Linked DNA regions of Homo sapiens: regions 1 and 2 are each linked to region 3. The links come from fine-mapping of genetic effects on gene expression. A gene starts in region 3. Each other region holds a variant in brackets. All regions are shown on one strand. Distances are between the middles of the regions.

The links.
Region 1: its variant is fine-mapped to the expression of CYP4F11 in left ventricle (GTEx, PIP above 0.99).
Region 2: its variant is fine-mapped to the expression of CYP4F11 in unexposed skin (GTEx, PIP above 0.99).

The regions. Positions count from the first base shown.
Region 1 is chr19:15,951,250-15,959,430 of GRCh38, reverse strand. No RefSeq gene overlaps it. Among named protein-coding and RNA genes, the nearest start is that of OR10H4, 6.3 kb to the right of the region's middle. The variant G/A (reference allele first, on the strand shown) is at 3,329.
Region 2 is chr19:15,892,673-15,900,853 of GRCh38, reverse strand. It overlaps CYP4F2 (cytochrome P450 family 4 subfamily F member 2), which reads left to right and starts at 2,780. Exons shown (of 13, transcript NM_001082.5): 1 at 2,780-2,828; 2 at 3,242-3,440; 3 at 5,204-5,348. The coding sequence starts at 3,243. RefSeq lists an enhancer at 7,569-8,181. The variant G/TGG (reference allele first, on the strand shown) is at 4,786.
Region 3 is chr19:15,930,816-15,938,996 of GRCh38, reverse strand. CYP4F11 (cytochrome P450 family 4 subfamily F member 11) reads left to right here and starts at 4,468. Exons shown (of 12, transcript NM_021187.4): 1 at 4,468-4,786. The coding sequence starts at 4,589.

The sequences.
Region 1 (8,181 bases), 20 kb before region 3:
TGGACTGACTGAGAATCAGTGTTGGCCTGGACTGCCCCACCTGGAGTCAATGAACATCCTGGCTGATTTCAGGTCCCAGAGAACCTCCTTCAAAGAAGACACTGAAGAGTGTGGGTCCCAGAGGTGCAGAGCCCAGTTAAGTGCCAATTTTGCTCGGTCTAAGGAAGGACCACACCCTTTAACAATATCTATAGCTGACATTATCCAGTGCTTATGAACTGCCAATCATCATGTCCTCATTAATATTATTATTTTCACTTTACAGATGAGGAAACTGAGTTTCAGAGGTTAGTTCACTTATCTGAGGACACATCACATGAGGAGTGGGTATGGGACTCAGACATTCTGAGAATTCTCTAGGAAGTATGAGAGATAATCAACCACAGATTCAAGAAGCTCAGAGAATTCCAAAAGGATAACTTCTTTTCTTTCTTTTTCCTTTTTCTTTTTTTTTTTCGAGATGGAGTCTCACTCTCTCTCCCAGGCTGGAGGGCAATGTCATGATCTTGGCTCACTGCAACCTCTGCCTCCCGGGTTCAAGCGATTCTCCTGCCTCAACCTCCTGAGTAGCTGGAATTACAGGCACATGCCACCAGGCTTGGCTGATTTTTGTATTTTTACTAGAGACAGGGTTTCGCCATGTTGGCTAGGCTCATCTCAACTCCTGACCTAAAGTGATCGACCCACCTCGGCCTCCCAAAGTGTTGGGATTACAGGCATGAGCCACCGCACCTGGCCTCCAAAGGGATAACTTCTAAAAAGTGCATATAGACAAACATGAACACAAATATATACATACACACACACAAAGCCCTAGACACACAGTAGTCAAAACTGCTGAAAACCAAAGAAAAAAGAAAAGTTATGATTGTAGCTAGGCTAAAAGACACAAAAATGATACAATCTATGAAATTTTCCCAGCAATGCGTTTGATCACTGAAAGGTTCTCTGCAAATATTAGCTCACTTTTCCTTGCTGCATCATATTCTGTCTTTAAATTTTGAAGTTATACATGAGTTATACATGAACAACTTTGACTGCATTCTCTGAGAAAGGAGTTGTAAGAACAACTCCTACGTTGTCATAACCACACCTTTATCTCTGACAAATATCTTTACAAATTCATGTAACAAGAAACCTGGAAGGGAAAATGCACCAGAGGCTGGGTGTGGTGGCTCACGCCTGTAATCCCAGCACTTTCGGAGGCTGAGGTTGGCAGATCACTTGAGCTCAGGAGTTCGAGACCAGCCTGGGCAACATGGCGAAACCCCGTTTCTACCAAAAGTACAAAAATTAGCCAGGCATGGCGACATGTGCCTGTAGTCCCAAATACCTGGGAGGCTTAGGTGGGAAGATCGCTTGAGCCTGGGAGATTGAGTCTGCAACGAGCCATGATCGTGCCACTGCACTCCAGCCTGGGTGCCAGAGTGAGACCCTATCAAAAAAAGAAAGAAAGAGAGAGAGAGAATGCAACAGGTATCTCCAGGCACATTCTTGGGGAAGCTACTTTCCCCAGCAATATGGAGGGGAACTAAATTTGTGGAGAAAACCTGTGAGAGGCAAAGTGCCTTCTCAATATCTGTGTCATCTCCCCATGACATGCATTGATAATAACAGCAGAGATATTGCTGAGCAAGAAGGGAAACATTTGGCAGTTTACACAGGGGTGGACCTTTCCTTTTCTTTTCTTTTTTTGAGACAGTCTCACTCTGTCACCCAGGCTGGAGTGCAGTGGTGTGATCTCAGCTCTCTGCAGCCCCAACCTCCCAGGCTCAAGCAATCCACCCACCTCAGCCTCCTAAGTAGCTGGGACTACAGGCATGCACCACCATGCGTGGGCTGTGTGTGTGTGTGTGTGTGTGTGTGTGTGTGTGTGTGTGTATTTCTTTTTCTTTCTTTTTTTTTTAGACGGAGTCTTGCTCTGATGCCCAGGCTGGAGTGCAGTGGCTTGATCTTGGCTCACTGCAACCTCTGCCTCCTGGGTTCAAGTGATTCTCCTGCCTCAGCCTCCCAAGCAGCTAGGATTACAGGCACCCGCCACCATGCCCAGCTAATTTTTTGTATTTTTAGTAGAGATGGGGTTTCACCATGTTGCCCAGGCTAGTTTCTAACTACTGAGCTCAAGCAATCCACCCACCCCAGCTTCCTGAGTAGTTATGACTAGATGTCTGTACCACCATGCCTGGGCTTTTTTTTTTTTTTTTTTTTGTATTTCTTTTTGTAGAGATGGGGTTTTGCCATGTTGGCCAGGCTAGTCTCTAACTACTGAGGTCAAGCAACTTGCCAGCCTTAGGTTCCCAAAATGCTGGGATTACAGGTGTGTACCACTGCACCAGGTCAGGGGGTGGACATTTTCTATTATAGAAAGGGTGTGTCTTCTTCAATAAAAACCATCCTTGCCCTTATTAGTTACTGCAGACTACAGATGACACCAGAAAATGAATATACAAAGTCAGACACACAGGTTCATAGAAACCCACACCCAAGGTTGCTGTTGATCTGTCTGTATGCCACAGCCCTGAATTCAGTGTGGGTTCATGTGGAGTGACCCCCAAATCAGTGCATCAGCCCCATCAGGCTGCCAAATCCCAGTTACTCCCATGAAAGCAATGCCATACCAGTGGGTCACAGGTGCAAAGCTCAGAGCTATCTGGGTCTTCTGGTCAACCTCGGGTGTGAGTTCAAATGTTAAAATTTCAAACATGGAAGATACAAGAAGTAGGGCTGGCCCTGGCAGTTGCCAGGCACCAGAGGGGACATTGACATTTTTGCAGTAGGGACTTTCCTACTTTTGCTGAGCAGCCAATGTGAGTAGAAGCATGGGAATCAGTGGTTACCTCCCTAAGGCTTCCAAAGCACTGCTTTTGGATCCTGACAGCAGGTCCAGGTGTCTGGAGGATGCTGCGAGGGTGAGAGGAGGGTGCAGGGGAAGGAAGGGGATCCATCTCCTTCAGCACCAGGGACATTGACTGCCCTGGGATTCCTTGGCCTCCTAGGCTGCAGGGAACTCTGGCTCAGGTGCATCCCACACACTCCTGCAGTAGAAAGTCCAATGACCAGGCACCTTGCAGGGTCCTACAGAGTGGAGACCGGGGAGGATTACTGGTTATACACACAGATGGAATAAATGTTGCAAGTGAAATATGTAAACATATAAATAGTTATACATACATAAACAAGTACATGTTAAGCTGAAAAGTTATTCATGCTAGAGTTTATTTATGCAAATATGACAAATAGAGGCATATGCATTTATGCACTCTCCACCTCATTTCTGTGAAAATGTTGCAGACATACCTGGTGTTCTGTACCTCACTCTCTTAGCATC[G/A]TATTTGCCTCCCTTGATATGTGTGCACGTAAAGGAAGACACATTTTAAACAACCCCCCTCCTCATCAATTTTATGACTGGTTACATAAGGCCCATTGCCATTCAGTATCTACCTTCTAATATTCTGTAAACGAATAGGGTGTCTGTGCGTGTGTGTGTGCTGAGCTCTCCATGCTGGGAGGCATCTAAGTAGAGACTGTCAGGGATGCCGTAGCTGGGCTGTGCAGAGCTTACGTCTTCATTGGATGGGAGGCTGGGCTCCATGGGTTGTCCAGTTCCCAGCCCCAGAATAGCTGATGTCCTTCCCCAAAATCCACCTATGAGTCTGCCTTAACATCTGGCAGGAGTTCAAGGTTTCCTGTTGTTCTCCATGGAAAACTCTTCTAGATTCAGGCCAAGGCTCCCTGTGTCCAGGAGGTTGCTCTCCTAGCCATTACCCACAGCCAAAGAGAGCAGGTGGTGAGGACAGGCTGGACCTTTAGGGCCCTTCTCTCAGACAGCGCAAGGCCATGTTTCTGCCCCCTGTGGGATCCAGATCAGACCCCATATCCAGCTTACACAGCAATCGCAGTAACAGCAGGAACAGTGAGTTGCACTTGCTGAGCCCTTAGTCTGCCTTGTGTATTTTGCATGCATTGTCTGTTTTAGTTATTACCATGACCTTGTGAGGCGGGTGCTGCTGAAACGCCCATTTATAGACGTGAAGGAGCACAGCCCGGTGGTGAGGGTGGCACAATGTGAGACTGGGTGGGTAGTCTGGGGGTGTACAGCCTGGCTCCACCAGCTGTGTGACTGTGGGTGGTCACTTAAATATCTCCCGGACTTAATTTCTCATTTGTAAAATGCAAAACAAGGTGGTTAATATACTTAAAAGACTTAAAACAGGTTCCGTGACTCATGTTGGCAAATGTCAATGGCCCTAGTAGGAAGGACTGCATCTCGTGGGTTGAGTGCCAGCTCAGCCACAATAAATACAATACCAGGTAGATTTCTAAAGTTTTTGATGCCAGTCCCTGGCACACAGTACTAATAATACCAGTCGCTAGCAACTCTGGACCCACGCAGGGCATGGGGCAACTCGCTGCCCTGAAGGGAAGGACACAAGTCCAGCTGGCTTCACCACCTGCTGACTGCGGAGTCCCAGGGCCTTGAGTGAACTTAGGCAGTAGCCAGGTAGTGGTCATAGGAGGTTTTGTGTGGGATCCAGTGCTCTGCTGGTTTTAGGTCTAACCCAGCACAGCTCCAGTGCTGATGGCCACAGAGGTGCTTGTGTCAGTGCTTCCCCAACTCCTGGAGGCTTAGAACAGAGTGAGAGCAACTATGTTTGTTTCTGAGAAAGTAAGGGGGAAAAAATAAGTGTCTCTGCCTGGTAATCCAGAGAATTCTCTTAAATGTCATCTAAGACCATCAAGGTGGTACCTTTATGAGTCTGCAAGAACCACAGTGTTATTGGGCTTGGGGTGCCCCCTAATGCAGATACAGCGTATTTTATACCACCTAAGTCTGAATACCTGGAAGCCTTCCTAAGAAAGATGGGTACAAACAAACCCAGACTGAGAAGATTACAATAAACACCTAATTCTTCAATGACCGGACACAGATGAATATCTAGAAGCATCAAGACCATCCAGGAAAACATGACCTCACCAAAGGAACTAAATAAGTCACCAGAGACCGATCCAGGAGATACAGAGACGTGACCTTTCAGCAGAGAATTCTAAATAGCCGTTTTCAGAAAACTCACAGAAATTCAAGATAACATAGAAAAAAATTCAGATTTCTATTAGATAAATTTAACAAAGAGACTGAAATAATTTAAAAGAATCAAACAGAAATTCTGGCATTGAAAAAATGAAATTGACGCACTGAAGAATACACGAGTCTTTTAATAGAAGAATTGATCAAGGACAAGAAAGAATTAGTGAGCTTGAAGAAAGGCTATTTGAAAATGCACAGTCAGAGGAGACAAAAGAAAAAAAAATTTTAAATGAAGCATGCCTACAGAATATAGAAAATAGCCTCAAAAGGGCAAATCTAAGAGTTATTGGTCTTAAAGAGAAGGTGTAGAGAGAGATTGGGGTAGAGTGTTTATTCAAAGGGATAATAACAAAGAACTTCTCAGACCTAAAGAAAGATATCAATATTCAAGTAAAAGAAGGTTACAGAACACCCAGCACATTTAACCCAAAGTAGACTACCACAAGGCATTTAATAATCAAACTCTAAAAGGTTAAGGTTAAAGAAAGGATCCTAAAAGCAGCAAGAGAAAAGAAACAACATAAAATAGAGCTCCAACACATCTGGCAGTGGACTTTTCAGTAGAAACCTTGCAGGCCAGGAGAGAGTGACAGGACATATTTAAAGTGCTGAAGGAAAAATCTTTTACCCTAGAATAGTAAATTCAGTGAAAATGTTCTTCAAAGATGAAAGAGAAATAAAGCCTTTCCAAGACAGTCCTTACTTATCAATCATAACATGGAATGTAAATAAACTAAACTCTTCAATCAAAAGACATAGAGTGGCTCCGTGGATTAAAAAATAAAAAAGACCCAATGATTTGTTGCCTTCAAGAAGCACATTTCACTTGTAAAAACATACTTAGTCCAAGAATGATGGGATAGAAAAAGACACATCATGTCAATGGAAGTTTAAAAAGCATGGGAGTACCTATATTTATATCACACAATATAGATGTCAAGACAAAAACTATAAAAAGAGACAAGAAGGTTGTTGTCTCTTGGACCTAATTGATATTTACAGGACATTTCCTCCAATGGCTGCAGAATATACATTCTTTTCCTCAGCACATAGATCATTCTCAAGGAAACACCAGATGTTTGATTACAAAACACGTCTGAAAACATTCAAAAAACTGAAATAATATCAAGCATCTTCTCTGATCACAGTGGCCTAAAATGGAAAGAAATAATACAAGAAAATTTGGAAACTATACAAACACATGGGAATTAAACAAAATGCTCCAGAATGACCAGTTGGTCCACAAAGAAATTGAGAAGGAAATTGAAAAATTTTATTAAGCAAATGATAATGGAACCCCAATATATCAAAACCTATGGGATACAGTGAGAGCTATAAACGTTCCTCTTATTGCTGCTCTCACTGTATTCCATAGGTTTTGGTAAGCCAGGCACAGAAATACAAACATCACATGTTCTCAAATATTTGTGGGATCTAAAAATCAAAACAGTTGAACTCATGAAGTTGCCAGAGGCTGGGAAGGGTAGTGATGGGTGATTGGGGGAGCAGGGGCAGATGGTTAATGAGTACAAAAAGTAGTTAGAATGAATAACATTTGATATTTGATAGCACAACAGGGTGACTATATTCAATAATAATGTAATTGTACATTTTAAAATAACTAAAAGTATAGCAGGATTGTTTTTAACACAAAAGATACATGCTTGAGGGGGTGGATACCCCATTTGCATGGTATGATTATTATTTATTGCATTCCTGTATGAAAACATCTCAAGTGACCCATAAATATATACACGTACTATATACACACAGACACAAAATATGTTTTTTAAAGTGGCAAAAGATATGAACAGACATTACTCAGAAGAAGACATAGAAAAAGCAAACAGGCATATTAAAAGATCCTGAACATCATTGATTTAGCAGAGAAATGGAAATCAAAACTACAATAAGAAATCATCTTATCCCAGTAAAAATGGCTTCTATCCAAAAGATAGGAAATAACAAATGCTGGTGAGGATGAGGAGAAAAGGGAACCCTTGTACACTGTTGTTGGGGATGTAAGTTAGTACCACCACTATGGAGAACAGTTTGGAAGTCCCTCAAGAAATGAAAAAAACAGCTACCATAACATCCAGTAATCCCACTGCTGGGTATATTCCCCAAAGAAAAGAAATCAGTGTATCAAAGAGATACCTGCTGTCCTATATTTATTCCAGCACTATTCACAATAGCCAAGATTTGGAAGCAATCAAAGTGTCCATCAACAGTTGAATAGATAAAGAAAATGTGGTACATATACATGATGGAGTACTATTCAGAATGAGATTCTGTCATTTGTAACCACATGGATGGAACTTGAGGACAATATATTCAGTAAAATACGCCAGACACAGAAAGACAAACTTTGCATGGTATCACTTATTTGTGGAAGCTAAGAATTAAAACAATTGAACTTATGAAGATAGAAAGTAGAATGGGTAACAGAGGCTGTTAAGGGTAGTTGGGGCTTCCGGGGGAAGTGGGAATGGTTATTGGGTACTAAAAAATAGTAGGAATGAAGATTAAGACCTAGTAATTGCTAGCATAACAGAGTGACTATAGTAAGAAACGATTTAGTTAATTATTAATTAAAACGCATCAATTAAAATACAGAGATTGTCACAGGGGGTCAAAAAAATAAGACTCAGATATAAGTTTTTTTTTTAACAAGAAAACCCTGTAAATATAAAGGCATATATAAGTGAAAAGTAAACAGATGGAGAAAGATATACCATAGCAACATGAGTCAAAAGAAAGTGGAAGAAAAAGGTAACAAAGTGGTTAACACTCACAACAGCTTGGCTCTTGGAAAAATTTTTGATTTATTTGTATAGAAAGTTCTGCTTCTGTAGCACTTTCATAGGACACATTTAATGCCATTTCCATCATTAACTATGTCACTTCATCATCTGTGACCATATGCCCAGAGGGTCTCTCACTGGTTGCTATGGTGCAACCATAGCAGACATGCAACGATGAGAAGCACACATGCGAGTCTTGCCCAGAGTATGCAGGATAAGGGAAAGGATAGTTTGTTTTTGTTTGGAGTTTTATAACATAAACAAAGAATAAAACTTCTTCCAACCATGTCA
Region 2 (8,181 bases), 38 kb after region 3:
TTCTCCACCATTTTATTTGGTAGTAAGCTATCTAGAGAACTTGCTCCCTACGCTGAGCCAATAAGCGAAATGTGTGAGCTTTGAAGGATACAGTTTCATTTCGAGGAATGGAGAATATCTGTGCAAAGTTGGGGCAGTTCAGAGCAGAGTGAGCTGCAGACTGTTCTGCAGGTATGGGGCTGGAAGTCTTCACACGACCTCATAGTCCTGGCACCCAAACTTACTCAGACAATGGTGTGTCCGGAATTGGTGGGTTCTTGGTCTCACTGACTTCAAGAATGAAGCCGCGGACCCTCGCGGTGAGTGTTACAGCTCTTAAGGTGGCGCGTCTGGAGTTTGTTCTTTCTGATGTTCAGATGTGTTCGGAGTTTCTTCCTTCTGGTGGGTTCGTGGTCTCGCTGGCTCAGGAGTGAAGCTGCAGACTTTCGCGGTGAGTGTTACAGCTCATAAAAGCAGTGTGAACCTAAAGAGTGAGCAGCAGCAAGATTTATTGCAAAGAGTGAAAGAACAAAGCTTCCACAATGTGGAAGGGGGCCTGAGCGGGTTGCCACTGCTGGCTCGGGCAGCCTGCTTTTATTCTCTTATCTGGCCCTACCTATGTCCTGCTGATTGGTAGAGCCAAGTGGTCTGTTTTGACAGGGCGCTGATTGGTGCGTTCACAATCCTTGAGCTAGACACAAAGGTTCTCCACGTCCCCACCAGACTCAGAAGCCCAGCTGGCTTCACCCAGTGGATCCCGCACCGGGGCTGCAGGTGGAGCTGCCTGCCAGTCCCGCGCCGTGCGCTCGCACTCCTCAGCCCTTGGGTGGTCGATGGGACTGGGCGCCCTGGAGCAGGGGGCGGCGCTCATCGGGGAGGCTCGGGCTGCACAGGAACCTACGGAGGCCGGGGGCTCAGGCATGGCGGGCTGCAGGTCCTGGGCCCTGCCCCGCGGGAAGGCAGCTAAGGCCCGGCGAGAAATCGAGCGCAGCGCCGGTGGGCTGGCACTGCTGGGGGACCGAGTACACCTTCCCGAGCAGCCGCTGGCCCGGGTGCTAAGCCCCTCATTGCCCGGGGCTGGCAGGGCCGGCCGGCTGCTCCGAGTGCGGGGCCTGCCAAGCCTACGCCCACCTGGAACTCTAGCTGGCCCGCAAGTGCCGCGCGCAGCCCCGGTTCGTACTCGCGCCTCTCCCTCCATACCTCCCTGCAAGCTGAGGGAGCCGGCTCTGGCCTTGGCCAGCCTAGAAAGGGGCTCCTACACCTATAAGTGAGAATATGCGGTGTTTGGTTTTTTGTTCTTGCGATAGTTTACTGAGAATGATGATTTCCAATTTCATCCATGTCCCTACACAATGAGAACATATGGACACAGGAAGGGGAACATCACACTCTGGGGACTGTTGTGGGGTGGGGGGAGGGGGGAGGGATAGCATTGGGAGATATACCTAATGCTAGATGACGAGTTAGTGGGTGCAGCGCACCAGCATGGCACATGTATACATATGTAACTAACCTGCACATTGTGCGCATGTACCCTAAAACTTAAAGTATAATAATAATAATAAAAAAATCCAAAAAAAAAGAAAAGAAGAGAAAAGAAAGGGGCTCCCACAGTGCAGCGGTGGGCTGAAGGGCTCCTCAAGTGCCGCCAAAGTGGGAGCCCAGGCAGAGGAGGCGCCGAGAGCGAGTGAGGGCTGTGAGGACTGCCAGCATGCTGTCACCTCTCAGTGGGAGCAGGTGTGACAAGAGTTGGGCAAATCAGACCTTTAATCCACCCTGATAGGCTGGAGTGTGGGCTTATGGCATTTCTCCTTTGACCCAATTAACCTCCACTCCCAATGTATCTCTGTGCAGAAGGCTCAGCTAGGTGTATCAGCCATTGTAAATCCTCAACATAAATTATAATTTAACCTAGAATACAGAGACTAGGTAGCAGGAGGAGAGGAAATGTAGAGATACTAATCTCTTCTCCCTTATCAGAAAGAAACCTAGCATAAGAAATTTCACGCTTAATGGGCCAAAGAGTAAATCAGAAAACTCCATGGGTGATGGTATGCTCATGGTGGTGGTGGTGGTGATGGGGAATTATTTGCCCTCCTGTGACCTCCCTTGGATTAATTTCTCCCCAGGACAATGGGAAAAATCATTTAATCCTTGGAGTTTTTTTTTTTTTTTTTTTTTTTTTTTTTTTTTTTTTTGCTTGAGAGTGACTCTGATCCTGTTTCTGATGGTCATGTTCCTCAGCATCATACTGAGTAAGTCACTGGCCTTGTAGCATCTGGAGTGATTGGAGTGATCCAAGATCCCTAGTTCCCATGTCACAAATGAGGATCCCACATATCTGGGACAGAGATGGAACATTATTTCTGGGTGTGTCTATCTAATCTATTCATCCTATCTATCTAATTTCTCATCTATATATATATTTGCCTACCCATCCATCCATCAATCCATCTTAGCTGTACGTTTATCCATTCCATCTATTTATCCTATTATCTATGTATCTATCTATCATCTATTAATAGCTATCTATCCATCTGTCTAATATATCCATTATCTATATCTACTTTATCTATCTACCTAATGTATCCATCCTATCTACTCTATCTATCTGTGCATCTACCCATCCATCTGGACCCTGAGCTGATTCCTCTGCACCCAGCTGGCCTGACGCCAGGTGTTGATTGGCTGCCCAGGCTCAGGAGACACATCCAGGCTGCAGGGATTGGTTGGCCCAGCCCAACCCAGCCAGCCCTCCCACAGCCTTTGCTATATCAAGGGCCAGGGTCAAAGGCCTCCCAGCAGACAGAGAGAGGAGGTTGTCTGGGACAGACTGCTCCTGACAGAAGGTGCCAGGCTGGGGGTGGCAGGCCTGGGGGGGGTCCTGGCCTGGGATGGAGAGGGGCACTGCCCAAGGCCCACGCAGCTCCTGGGTGCTGGCCTGGAGGATGGGTGGTTTCCGAGTAACTGAAACCAAGCCCCTGGCAACCTCACAGTGATTCAGGCTGGGCCTTTCTGGACTTTAATCAGTCTCTCTCTCTCTTTCCCATTCTAAGTGCTTACTAGGGAACTGGAGGCCACTTGGCTGCTGGTTTTGGTTGGGCCTTTCTGGACTTTACCTCTCAGCCCCTTTTTACCCATCCCTGAGCCCTCCCTGCTCTACCTCCGGCACTGCCCGTCCCTGCCTCTCCACTGTCCCTGGAGGTCCCTGGGCCGTTCTCTGGGCCTCAGGATCTCACCGTCCATCCCGTCTGCCCTGCAGGATGTCCCAGCTGAGCCTGTCCTGGCTGGGCCTCTGGCCAGTGGCAGCATCCCCTTGGCTGCTCCTCCTGCTGGTCGGGGCCTCCTGGCTCCTGGCCCATGTCCTGGCCTGGACCTACGCCTTCTATGACAACTGCCGCCGCCTTCGGTGTTTCCCACAACCCCCAAGACGGAACTGGTTTTGGGGACACCAGGGCATGGTGAGTGTGGCAGCAGGATGGGTCTAGGTCTCAGGATGGATGGACTTCCTGAGGGGTACGAGGCTTAGGGAGTGGGGGTGAAGGGGTGGGCTGGGATCTGGGGTGGCAGAGAAGCAGAGGAGGCATCTTACTCATTCCTCTGCTTATTCATTTCTGTGAGGTGCCTACGCAAGCCCTTCTCACTTCCTTGTCCTCCCACTCCAGGCCTGCATTGAATCCTTTTCCTGCCTGTCTTCCCACATTAATGCACCTCTGCGGGGCTCCTGGGCAGAGGGTTGGCTGCACAGAGAGGCGAGTCCCTGGCATTCCCACATTCTCCATTGCTGGACTCGAGGCTTCTTATGCCCACTGTCCAGGGTCCTCTCCTTGCCTGGACTATTTCCTGTTATGAGGGTACAGCTGGGCCAGAGGAGAGGCATGGGCCGTCTCCCACTTCCACTACACCCGAAGGCACCTTTCTCTTATATTCTTCTTCTTATCTCCCTCTTATCAATGAGACCTGTTGCCAAACCCAGATAAAAGTTGGCCACTCACTTCACCTTTCAGAAGCTTTCCTTGGCCTTTCTCCTCCCCGTGACCTTGCCCTCTGACTTAGACCGCTCTCCTCTTTGGGGAATGTGGTCTTAGTCTGCTCATTTGCAAATGGCAGGATTGATGGATGTGTCCACAGATAAAGTGGAAGGGTGCACAGGACACACTAGCACAGAGCCTGCTGCAGAAGCTGCTCCCAGGTGGGAGCCATTGTCCTGATGGACAGTTAGAGTCACCTCTGCTCCACTAGTGGCTGCTGAAAAGGGAAGGTCTCCCATGTGCAGAACCTTCTCCATGGGAGGAACTGGAGCCTCTGTGGATCAGCCAGGACATGAAGGCATGTGGGGACCAGCCTTAGGGACATGTCCTGAGGCGATACTGCTCCCCACAAATCTCCCCTGTGAGGACCTCCCCATATAGCTGCCTCTGGGCTGAAATGACTCCCAGAAAAAGAAAATCCTTCCTCTCAAGATAACTGGGCCTCTGTGAGTGGACAGTGCGTCTTCTCCCTCTGCCCTGGGATGCACCCTTGGGACTTGGAGATGGACCCAAGAGAGATAGAGCAGGAGGAATGTGGATAGATAGATAGATAGAGCAGGAGGAATGTAGATAGATAGATAGATAGATAGATAGATAGATAGATAGATAGCTAATAGGATAGATAGATAGATGCACAGATAGGATGGATAGATGGATGGATGGATGGATGGACAGGCACGTAGGTAGATAGATAATAGAATAGATGGATGCATGGACACATGGATGCACAGATAGCATGGATGGATGGATGGATGGATGGATGGATGGATGGATA[G/TGG]ATAGATAGACAAATAATAGGACATATGGATGCATGGACACACGGATGCACAGATAGGATGGATGGATGGATGGATGATGGATGGATGGGTAGATAGAGTAGATAGGATGGATAGATTATGTAGACAGATGGAGTAGATATATATGATGGATAGATTAGACGGATAGATGGCTATTAATAGATGATAAGCAGACAGACAGATGAATATATGGATGGATGAAAGCACAGATAAAATGGATTGATGGATAGATGGGTAGGCAGATAGATATATAGATAGAAAAATTAGATAGATAGGATGAATAGATTAGACACACCCAGAAATAATGTTTGACCAACTACCTGGGCATCCCTTAGCCCAGTCAAGTAGACACCTAGAATTAACTATCACAGAAGGTAATGACCCCTGCCTTGCTTGCAGGTCAACCCCACAGAGGAGGGCATGAGAGTTCTGACTCAGCTGGTGGCCACCTACCCCCAGGGCTTTAAGGTCTGGATGGGACCCATCTCCCCCCTCCTCAGTTTGTGCCACCCCGACATCATCCGGTCTGTCATCAACGCCTCAGGTACCATCTGGAACAGCTGGTGGGGCAGTGCATTTGAGGCCTGCACTTCCGCTATCCCCAAGCTCCTGTGTGGGCCCTGCAGTACTCTGGCCTCTCCTTTCCTTCCCTCTCAGCTATCTTCATCTTTCTTTCATGTATTCATCAATTTCCATCTCAGCGTCTCCTCTCTCTATTGCCATCTACCCCCTGTTCTGGTGTTCTGGGCTGCCCTGGAACCCTAAGAGACCTCAACCCAAGGCCCAGTCCTGGAGGAACCCCCAACTTTAAGGAGATGGACCTGGATAGAGATATCCCCAACTTCATGGGATCAGGAAAGGGCCAGAGGGAGATGGATCACAGCCCAGGGAAGAACAAGGTCTCTGCTGGGGCAGGCTGGAAGGCTTCCTAGAGGAGGAGTTACTGGAGCTGTGTCTGGAACAATGAGTAGGAATGTTTGAAAGGAGAGTGCAGGGTGAGGCAATTGGACATCGTTAGTATTCAAGGCCCCTTGCCAGGCCTAGCATCACCTTGCCTGTCCCAAAGCCTAGAACAATGAGGAGGACTTGTGGCTGGTGGGGGATCTGGGCTGCTACTTCCATGATGTCCACCTCTGGTGGGTCAATTCCCTTTACCCCATCCTATAGCTTGTCTGCCCTAAGTTCGTTGCTCTCCTGCTGCAGGTCCCGGGGATCTCCAAGAGGAGACTCCACCCCAGCTTGGGTCCCTTTCCTTGACCCCTGTGCTTCCCATCGTTGGACGGGCGAGGCTGAGCAGGGGGAATGGGCAGCATCCTACAGAGACCATGGCTCTGACCTCAAAATGCTGAGTGACTCTGGGCTGGTACCCAGCTGTCTCTGGTTATTGAAGTCTCTTTCAGTTGTGAGTGGTGGAAACCCAACCTGGTGTGGTCTAAGCAAAGAAAGATAATCTATTGACTTTAAAGTCCAGGGAGGGTGGCCTTCAGGCATGGCTGGATCCAGGTCTCACACAAGGTCACTGGAAATCTGTCTTTCTCTCTTGGCTTTAGCTTTCTCCATGTCGCTTTTCCTATCAAGGTGGCCTTTTCCTCATGATGTCAACGATGAGTCCCAGAAGCTCAGTTCTTATGGGAAAGGCCACCTTTCCCCTAGAGTTCCCAGAAATGGCCCATGGTTTACTTCTCCTGGCCTGGATCACAGGACCAATTTTTCACCCAATCCCTGTGTCTCTGATTGCCCAGTCTTGGTAGGCCTGGGTCTTCCAGAGCTACTGTTTTGGGGGCACAAAGAAGTTTGTTGGTTAAGGATTCAGGCCATGGGTGCAGACAGACCTAGTCTTAGGCCTCAGGCTTGCCGTGGTCTGGGACTGTGGGCAAGTGACTTTATTGTTCAGAGCCTCAGGCTCTTCATCTGGAAAATGGGATGAATGAGAGCCCAGGGAACATGGTGTGTGGATCCACATGGGGAAAGACCTTTTCTGTCTGTGTAACTGAAGGACTGGAGAGTCCTGCATGGAGGATGTGAGGAGGCAGGGGGTGCTCAGCACTGACAGGAGGATGAGATGCTGCTTGAAATTCTCAGGGAGAGGGCTTCGACCTCTTCCCTGCAGATCCTTCTCTCTCACAGCCTAGGAGAGCATGAATTGGGTCCTGTGTGTTTTTCTCCAGATTCACAGCTCAGAAGAAGGTCTCCTATACACACAAAGCCTGGCGTGCACCTTTGGGGATATGGGCTGCTGGTGGGTGGGGCCCTGGCAGGCAGTCATCCACATCTTTCTCCCCACGTGCATCAAGCCTGTGCTCTTTGCTCCAGGTAGACATCGCACTGGCCAAGCTTTGCCCACAGCTGGGGTTGCTGTGCTGCCTCCAGCTGAACACGTGACCGATGTGCAGACAGGAGGGGCTGTGGTGGAGATGCCATTGCCTCCATCGCCCCTGGACTTCCACCTGTCTAACCTCTGTTGCTGTTTGCTCATGTCTGGGGCGTGTCTCTACAATGGCTGTTATATGGCCAGGTCTGCCTTGTATATTTACACCTGGGTCCTGGTTACACCTGAAATATGTTATACCTGGTTACATCTGGTATATAATTCCAACTGGGGTCATGTAGAGCTGGTCAAGTTTGGGGCTTATCTGTGGCCAAGGACATTTGGGGCATGTGAGGGCCTGTTTGGTTCTTGTCTCAGGTGCTGTTTGACACTGCCGTTTTCTCCTGGTGGTCCAAACATCTGGGCGTTGTGTGAGGTCTGGGGGTTGTGTGAGGTCTGGGACCCAGGGTCCCTATGTGAACTGTCTGAGACATTATTTGAGTCTTGTCTGAGGCATGTGTTATAGTATATTTGGGTCATGCCTGAGGAACAGTCTGGTTCACATGTTGGCTATGTCTGTGACATTAAAGGTACCATATTTATATTCAACCCAGAGCCTGTATGTGGAACACGCTTTTAAGATCATGTTAGACCATCTCATGTGCATGTTAGAGCACACCATCTCATGTTAGGAATTGTCATGTATTTTGTGGCCATGTCAGGACATGTGAACACATGTCAGGGTCATGTCTCATGTCCAGGTCCATGTCAGAAGATGCCATATCAGAAGATGTCAGAGAGTGCTGGGACAGACAGGGTGTCCTAGGTCCTTGTGAAGCATTCTGTAGAATGCTGAGCTGTGCTCAGGGGTTGCGGAACATGTTGGATCGTGTAGGAGGCATGTCAAGGCATGCTGGAACCCTGACATAGCTCCTACACGCCATGTTAGGCAGTGTCATTGCTGTACTGTGCTGCTGTAGCCTGGTCTGGTCTTCCCTCCCCTCCCCATCCTCCCTTCTTCCTCTGCCCTTGGCCCTCTTCCTGCTATGTGGGGCTCAGAGTGGGAGAA
Region 3 (8,181 bases):
GAAAATCTTGCAGACATACCTGCTGTTCTGTACCTCAATCCCTTAGCCTCATATCTTGCCTCCCTTGACATGTGTGTACATAGAGGAAGATGCATTTTAAATGATCCCCTTTCTCATTGATTTAGAACTGGTTGAGTTTGAGGCTCATTTCCGTAGAGTATCTACCCTCTAATATTCTGTAAAGCAGGGACCCCCAACCTCCAGGCAGCAGACTGGTACTGGTCTGTGGCCTGTTAGGGACTGTACCACACAGCAGAAGGTGAGCGGTGGGCAAATGAGCAAAACTTCTTCGGTATTTAGAGTCGCTCTACATCACTCGCATTACTGCCTGAGCTCAGTAATGCTCAGTCAGATCAGTAGCAGCATTAGATTCTCAAAGGAGTGCAAACCCTACTGTGAAATGCACATGCAGGGAATCTAGATTGTGTGCACCTTATGAAAATCTAATGCCTGATGATCTGTCACTGTCTCCCATCACCGCCACATGGGATCATCTAGTTGCAGGAAAACAAGCACAGGGCTCCCTGATTCTACATGACGGTGAGTTGTATAATTACCTCATAATATATTACAATGTAATAATAATAGAAATAAAGTGCACAATAAATGTGATGCACCTGAATCATCCTGAAACCATCTTTGCCTCTCCTCCCCCTGCTGCAACTTGTGGAAAAATTGTCTTCCACGAAACTGGTCCCTGGTGCCAAAAGGGTTGGGGACCACTGCTGTAAAGGCAGAGTGTGTGTGTGTGTGTGTGTGTGTGTGTGTGTGTGTGCTGAGGTCTCCATGTTGGGGGACATTCAAGCAGAGACTCTCATGGATGCAGTAGCTGGGCTGTGTAGAGCTCACTTCTTCACTAGATGGGAGGCTGGGCTCCACGGATTGTTCAGTTCCCAGAACCAGAACAGCTGGCATCTCCCCTGCAAGAATCCACCTGTGAGTCTGCCTTAACACCTAACAGGTGTTCAAATTTTCTGTTACTACTTCACCACAGATAACTCTTCTGGATTCAGGCCAAGCCTCCTGTGTCTAGGAGGTTGCTCCCCTAGCCATAATCTACAGCCAAAGAGAACACGTGGTGAGGACAGGCTGGACCTTTAGGTCCCTTCTCTAATACAGTGCAAGGCCATGTCTCTGCCCCCTGTGGGATCCAGGTCAAACCCCATATGCAGCTTACACAGCAACTGCAACAACAGCAGGAACAGTGAGTTGCACTTGCTGAACCTTTAGTCTGCCTTGTGCATTTTGCATGCATTGTCTTTTTAAGTATTATGACAACCATGTGAGGTGGGTGCTGCTGAAACGCCCATTTACAGACGTGAAGGAGCACGGCCCGGTGGTGAGGGTAGCACAATGTGAGGCTGGGTGGGAGGTCTGGGTGTATAGCCCGGCTCCACCAGCTGTGCAACTGTGGGTGGTCACTTAAGTATCTTCCAGGCTTAATGTTTCATTTGTAAAATGAAAAACAAGGTGACTAATATACTTAAAGGACTTAAAACAGGCTGTGTAGGTTATGTCGGCAAATGGTGGTGGCCACCATTCCTGCTCTAGGCTGCCTGCTCATCCCAGGCACACAGGTGGTCTACAGTGTGCCAAACCCCTCTAGCCACTGGGAGCGCTTTCTTCTGTGTCCCTATAACCCCGCCTGTTCATCAAACTCTGGCTTTGCTCCCTGAGCCTAACAGGGATGGAACTGCCAGTAGGTGAGGTCTGTCCTTGCAGAGGGAGTAGGGATTTTGGGGGATGCACCCTACCCCACTGAGGCTGTAGGGCCAGGAGCCTGAATCCCCTGGTTGATTGAGCTGGCAGTGGTGGTGGGGTGGGGGAGGCTTTGGGGCTCCCCAACACCCAGCCAGTGTCAGGAGCACTGTCTTCCCTGCCCTCCTGCTTAGCAGCTGTGCTAGGAGCCCCATCCTTCAAGCACCCCCTCACCCAAGTCCACCCGGCAGGGCAATTCTGGACAGGATACAAGGAGGGCCAGGAGGGGAGCCCTGGGTCTGCTGGGTGGAGCATCCGGGGTGTGGGAGGAGGAGCCAGGTGCTGATTCAAAGACCTCAAGATATTTCCCCTCTGGGACCATGACATTGCCTGAGATTCCTCCATTTATACATGTCCCTGTATTAATATGGCATTGACCCTAATGAATGGGTGCAGAACAGCATGGCAGAGGAAAAAGGTTTGGGCTTGAGGATCTCACAAACCTGGCTTCCTGTGAGCTCTGTAACTTGGGCTAGAGGCCTGCCCTCTCTGAGACTCAGTTTGCTCTTTTGTTAAATGGATGCATTCCCTTCTCTGGATGCCATCACTCAGGTCTCTCCAACAATCCCAGGGCTCTGGCTCAGAGAACCGAGGGGAGGTTGGTGTGAAGGCTTTGGGCATGGTGACGCGGGTGAGCATCTGACATGAGCAGGTGCACTTGACCTAGAGTAGGTGGAACACAGTAGGCATGCTTTACCTAGAGCCCCTGCCACATAGTAGGAGTGCTTTGTGGAGAGTGCCTTGCACACAGTAGGCATTCTTTATGTCAAGAACTTTACATAGAGTAGTTTTACTTTATGTGGAGCACTTGACACACAGAAAAAACACTTTATATAGAGCATCTGGCACACAGTAGGTGTGCATTATGTAGAGTACCGGCCACACAGAGTCAGAGTTTATGAAGAGTACCCAGCATCCAGAGTAGGCACGCTTTATGTAGAGCACTTGACACACAGAAAGAACACTTTATGTAGAGCATCTGGCATACAGTAGGTGTGCTTTATGTAGAGTACCGGACACATGGAGTCACAGTTTATGAAGAGTACCCAGCACCCAGAGTAGGCACGCTTTATGTAGAGCACTTGACACACAGTAGGTGCACTTGACATAGATCACCAGGCACGTAGTAAACATGCTCTACATAGAACATCTGACACACAGTAGGTGTGTTTTATATAGAGCAGCAGGTGCAGAGTAGGTACACTTTACATAAGTTACTCCGCACAAATTTCACTTTATATAGAGGACCGAGAACAAAGAAGCAAGATTTTCTGTAGAGCGCCCAGCACACAGTGGACACACTTTTCATAGAGCACTTGGCACACAGTACACAACATGTATACAGAGTACCTGGCACATGGTAGGTGTGCTTTATTTAGAGTCCAGTACACAGTAAAAGAACTTTGCATATTGTCTTTTGCAAAGAGCAGAGACTGACACACAGCAGCTAAAGTGCTAGCTGCCAGCCCCTTCCCTTCACTCCCTCCTCAGAATCTTTCATCTGTCCCCATCTAAGGCCCATTTTCCTGTGATCCCTCCTCTGTCCCCCTCTAAGGCCTTATCTGACATCCCATTTCCCAGATGGGAAGCCTGAGTCCAGGAGGGGCTCACTACCCACAGTTAGGGCAAGGGGAGGGCAGAATAAGGACTCCACTCAGGGTCCCCCATCTCTGCCCTCCTGTCCCTGGCCCCATCCACTCATGGCCCCTCTCAGCCTTACCTCCCATCTCCCCTCTCTGTCCTCCTATGCTGAACCTAGCCTCCAGGTATTCTCCTCCAGCGGGGCTCTTTATCTCTAAAATCTGACCGGGTAATCCCCAGCACAGTTAGATAGTTTGTTCCTACTCCTGTCAGTCATGTCTCGACCCAGGCCCTGGGTTGCCTGGAGGCAGGACTTGAACTCCTGCCAGACTGTGAAGCCAGAGGCCAGGAGCTTCTGTCTCTGAATCTCCTAAGTCTGCACTGAGAAATGGTGCATGATGAACTCCTGGACCACATGTGGAGAGGAGCTCAGAACATGATCTGGCACAATGGTTGGCCTGGCCCCACTCTCTTGCCACCTGAACTCTCAAGTTCATGACTTTATCTGCCACACTCTTGCCTTGGAAGGGCAAGGTGGCTGTAAACTTTGGGGCTCAGAGTCACCTTTGACTCTTCCTCAAGATCCCCTCCCACTCAGGTGTGAGATGTTGAGACCTGCGGATCCTGTGCCCATGCTGTGTCACCCTGAGCTGGCTCCTCTGCACCCAGCTGGCCCTACGCCAGGTTTTGGTTGGTTGCCCAGGCTTGGAAGACACACCCAGTCCATGGGGATTGGCTCGACCAGCCCAGCCCAGCCTCGCCTCCCACAGCCTTCCGGAAATCAGGGGCCAGAGGCAAAGACCTCCTAGCAGAGGGGGAGAGGAGGGTATGTGGGACAAGCTGCTTCTGATAGGAGCCAGGCTGGCAGTGGCAGGGCTGGAGGGTCCTGGCCTGGGATGGGGAGGGGACTGCCCAAGGTTGGGGTGGGTCAAGGCTGCTGGCCTGGGAGACTGGTGATTTCCTGGTAACTGGACCCCTGGCAACCTCCCAGTGATTCAGGCTGGGCCTTTTTGGATTCTAATCAGCCTCTCTCTCTCTTTCCCTTTCTGTGTAACTGGAGGCCACTTGGCTGCTGGTTTTCATTGGGCATTTCTGGACTTTAGATCTCAGCTCTTGTTTACCCATCTCAGAGCCTTCCCTGATCTGCCTCCAGCACTGCCCATCCTTGCCCCTTTCCACTGTCCTTGGAGCTTCCTGGGCCCTTCCCTGGGCCTCAGGATCCCACCCTCCATCCCGTCTGCCCTGCAGGATGCCGCAGCTGAGCCTGTCCTGGCTGGGCCTCGGGCCCGTGGCAGCATCCCCGTGGCTGCTTCTGCTGCTGGTTGGAGGCTCCTGGCTCCTGGCCCGCGTCCTGGCCTGGACCTACACCTTCTATGACAACTGCCGCCGCCTCCAGTGTTTTCCTCAACCCCCGAAACAGAACTGGTTTTGGGGACACCAGGGCCTGGTGAGTTTGTCAGCAGGACGGGTCTGGGGTCTCAGGATGCATGGAGTTCCTGAGGGGCAGGAATGGGGCTCAGGGAGCTGGGTTTTGAGGGTGGCTGGGGTGTGGGAACACAGAGAAGAGAGGGAGGCAGCTCACTCATTCCTCTGCCCACTCACTCATTCCTCTCCCCGCTCACTCATTCCTCTGCCCACTCACTCATTCCTCTGCCCACTCACTCATTCCTCTCCCCGCTCACTCATTCCTCTCCCCGCTCACTCATTCCTCTCCCCGCTCACTCATTCCTCTCCCCGCTCACTCATTCCTCTGCCCACTCACTCATTCCTCTTCTCGCTCACTCATTCCTCTGCTCACTCACTCATTCCTCTCCTCACTCACTCATTCTTCTCCTCACTCACTCATTCTTCTCCTCACTCACTCATTCCTCTGCTCACTCACTCATTCCTCTCCTCACTCACTCATTCTTCTCCTCACTCACTCATTCCTCTCCTCACTCACTCATTCTTCTCCTCACTCACTCATTCTTCTCCTCACTCACTCATTCCTCTCCTCACTCACTCATTCTTCTCCTCACTCACTCATTCCTCTCCTCACTCACTCATTCTTCTCCTCACTCACTCATTCTTCTCCTCACTCACTCATTCCTCTCCTCACTCACTCATTCTTCTCCTCACTCACTCATTCCTCTCCTCACTCACTCATTCTTCTCCTCACTCACTCATTCCTCTCCTCACTCACTCATTCTTCTCCTCACTCACTCATTCCTCTCCTCACTCACTCATTCTTCTCCTCACTCACTCATTCCTCTCCTCACTCACTCATTCCTCTCCTCACTCACTCATTCCTCTCCTCACTCACTCATTCTTCTCCTCACTCACTCATTCTTCTCCTCACTCACTCATTCCTCTCCTCACTCACTCATTCCTCTCCTCACTCACTCATTCCTCTCCTCGCTCACTCATTCCTCTCCCCGCTCACTCATTCCTCTCCTCACTCACTCATTCCTCTCCTCACTCACTCATTCCTCTCCTCACTCACTCATTCCTCTCCCCACTCACTCATTCCTCTCCCCGCTCACTCATTCCTCTCCTCGCTCACTCATTCCTCTCCTCACTCACTCATTCTTCTCCTCACTCACTCATTCCTCTCCTCACTCACTCATTCCTCTCCTCACTCACTCATTCCTCTCCTCACTCACTCATTCCTCTCCTCACTCACTCATTCCTCTCCTCACTCACTCATTCCTCTCCTCACTCACTCATTCTTCTCCTCACTCACTCATTCCTCTCCTCACTCACTCATTCCTCTCCTCACTCACTCATTCCTCTCCTCACTCACTCATTCCTCTCCTCACTCACTCATTCCTCTCCTCACTCACTCATTCCTCTCCTCACTCACTCATTCCTCTCCTCACTCACTCATTCCTCTCCTCACTCACTCATTCCTCTCCTCACTCACTCATTCCTCTCCTCACTCACTCATTCCTCTCCTCACTCACTCATTCCTCTCCTCACTCACTCATTCCTCTCCTCACTCACTCATTCCTCTCCTCACTCACTCATTCCTCTCCTCACTCACTCATTCCTCTCCTCACTCACTCATTCCTCTCCTCACTCACTCATTCCTCTCCTCACTCACTCATTCCTCTCCTCACTCACTCATTCTTCTCCTCACTCACTCATTCTTCTCCTCACTCACTCATTCCTCTCCTCACTCACTCATTCCTCTCCTCACTCACTCATTCCTCTCCCCGCTCACTCATTCCTCTCCCCGCTCACTCATTCCTCTCCTCGCTCACTCATTCCTCTCCTCACTCACTCATTCCTCTCCCCGCTCACTCATTCCTCTCCCCGCTCACTCATTCCTCTCCTCGCTCACTCATTCCTCTCCTCGCTCACTCATTCCTCTCCTCGCTCACTCATTCCTCTCCTCACTCACTCATTCCTCTCCCCACTCACTCATTCCTCTCCCCGCTCACTCATTCCTCTCCTCGCTCACTCATTCCTCTCCTCGCTCACTCATTCCTCTCCTCACTCACTCATTCCTCTCCTCACTCACTCATTCTTCTCCTCACTCACTCATTCCTCTCCTCACTCACTCATTCTTCTCCTCACTCACTCATTCCTCTCCTCACTCACTCATTCTTCTCCTCACTCACTCATTCCTCTCCTCACTCACTCATTCTTCTCCTCACTCACTCATTCCTCTCCTCACTCACTCATTCCTCTCCTCACTCACTCATTCCTCTCCTCACTCACTCATTCCTCTCCTCACTCACTCATTCCTCTCCTCACTCACTCATTCCTCTCCTCACTCACTCATTCCTCTCCTCACTCACTCATTCCTCTCCTCACTCACTCATTCCTCTCCTCACTCACTCATTCCTCTCCTCACTCACTCATTCCTCTCCTCACTCACTCATTCCTCTCCTCACTCACTCATTCCTCTCCTCACTCACTCATTCCTCTCCTCACTCACTCATTCCTCTCCTCGCTCACTCATTCCTCTCCTCGCTCACTCATTCCTCTCCTCGCTCACTCATTCCTCTCCTCGCTCACTCATTCCTCTCCTCGCTCACTCATTCCTCTCCTCGCTCACTCATTCCTCTCCTCACTCACTCATTCCTCTCCTCGCTCACTCATTCCTCTCCTCGCTCACTCATTCCTCTCCCCGCTCACTCATTCCTCTGATGTGCCATCCCAAGTCTTTCTCACCTCCCTGTCCTCCCACTCCAGCCTGCTTGGATCTTTTTCCTGCCTGTCTTCCCTGTGTTACTGCACCTCTGAGGGTCTCCTGTGGGAGTGGTATGGGTGCACAGAGCAAAGATCTCCTGGCATTTGCACCTTCTCCACTGCTGGACTTGAGGCCTCCTGAGTCTACTGTCCAGGGACTACTCCCTGCCTGGCCCATTTGCTTGTGTCTGCCCATCTCTGTGCTGCTGCTTTCTCACAGGAATTAGCTCTGAGCCCCTTTCCATACGCAGGGACACAGAGGGTCCAGAAGAGAAGTGTGGGCAGTCTCCCGCTGCCTCCTTTTCTGGAGGCACCTTCCTCCTATCTTGCTCTTCCTCACTAACATGTCCCAGTCGGCCTTGTTACCTGCCTGAATAAAAGTTGGCCACTCCCTTCTCTTTTCAGAAGCTGTCCTTGACTCCGCAGACCTTGGCCTCCGACTTAGACCTGCTCTCCCATTTGGGGGACATGGCCTTGGTCTGCTCACTTGTAAATGGCAAAATTGATGGGCGTGTCCATCGGTGCAGTGGAGGGTGAATAGGACACACTAGCACAGAGCCTGGCCTGCAGGAGGTGCTTACTGTAGACAGTTAAGAGTCACTCCTCTACGCCTGGGGGCTGCTGAGAATGGAATGTCCCCAGTGTGGGAGGAACAGCCGCTGGTGG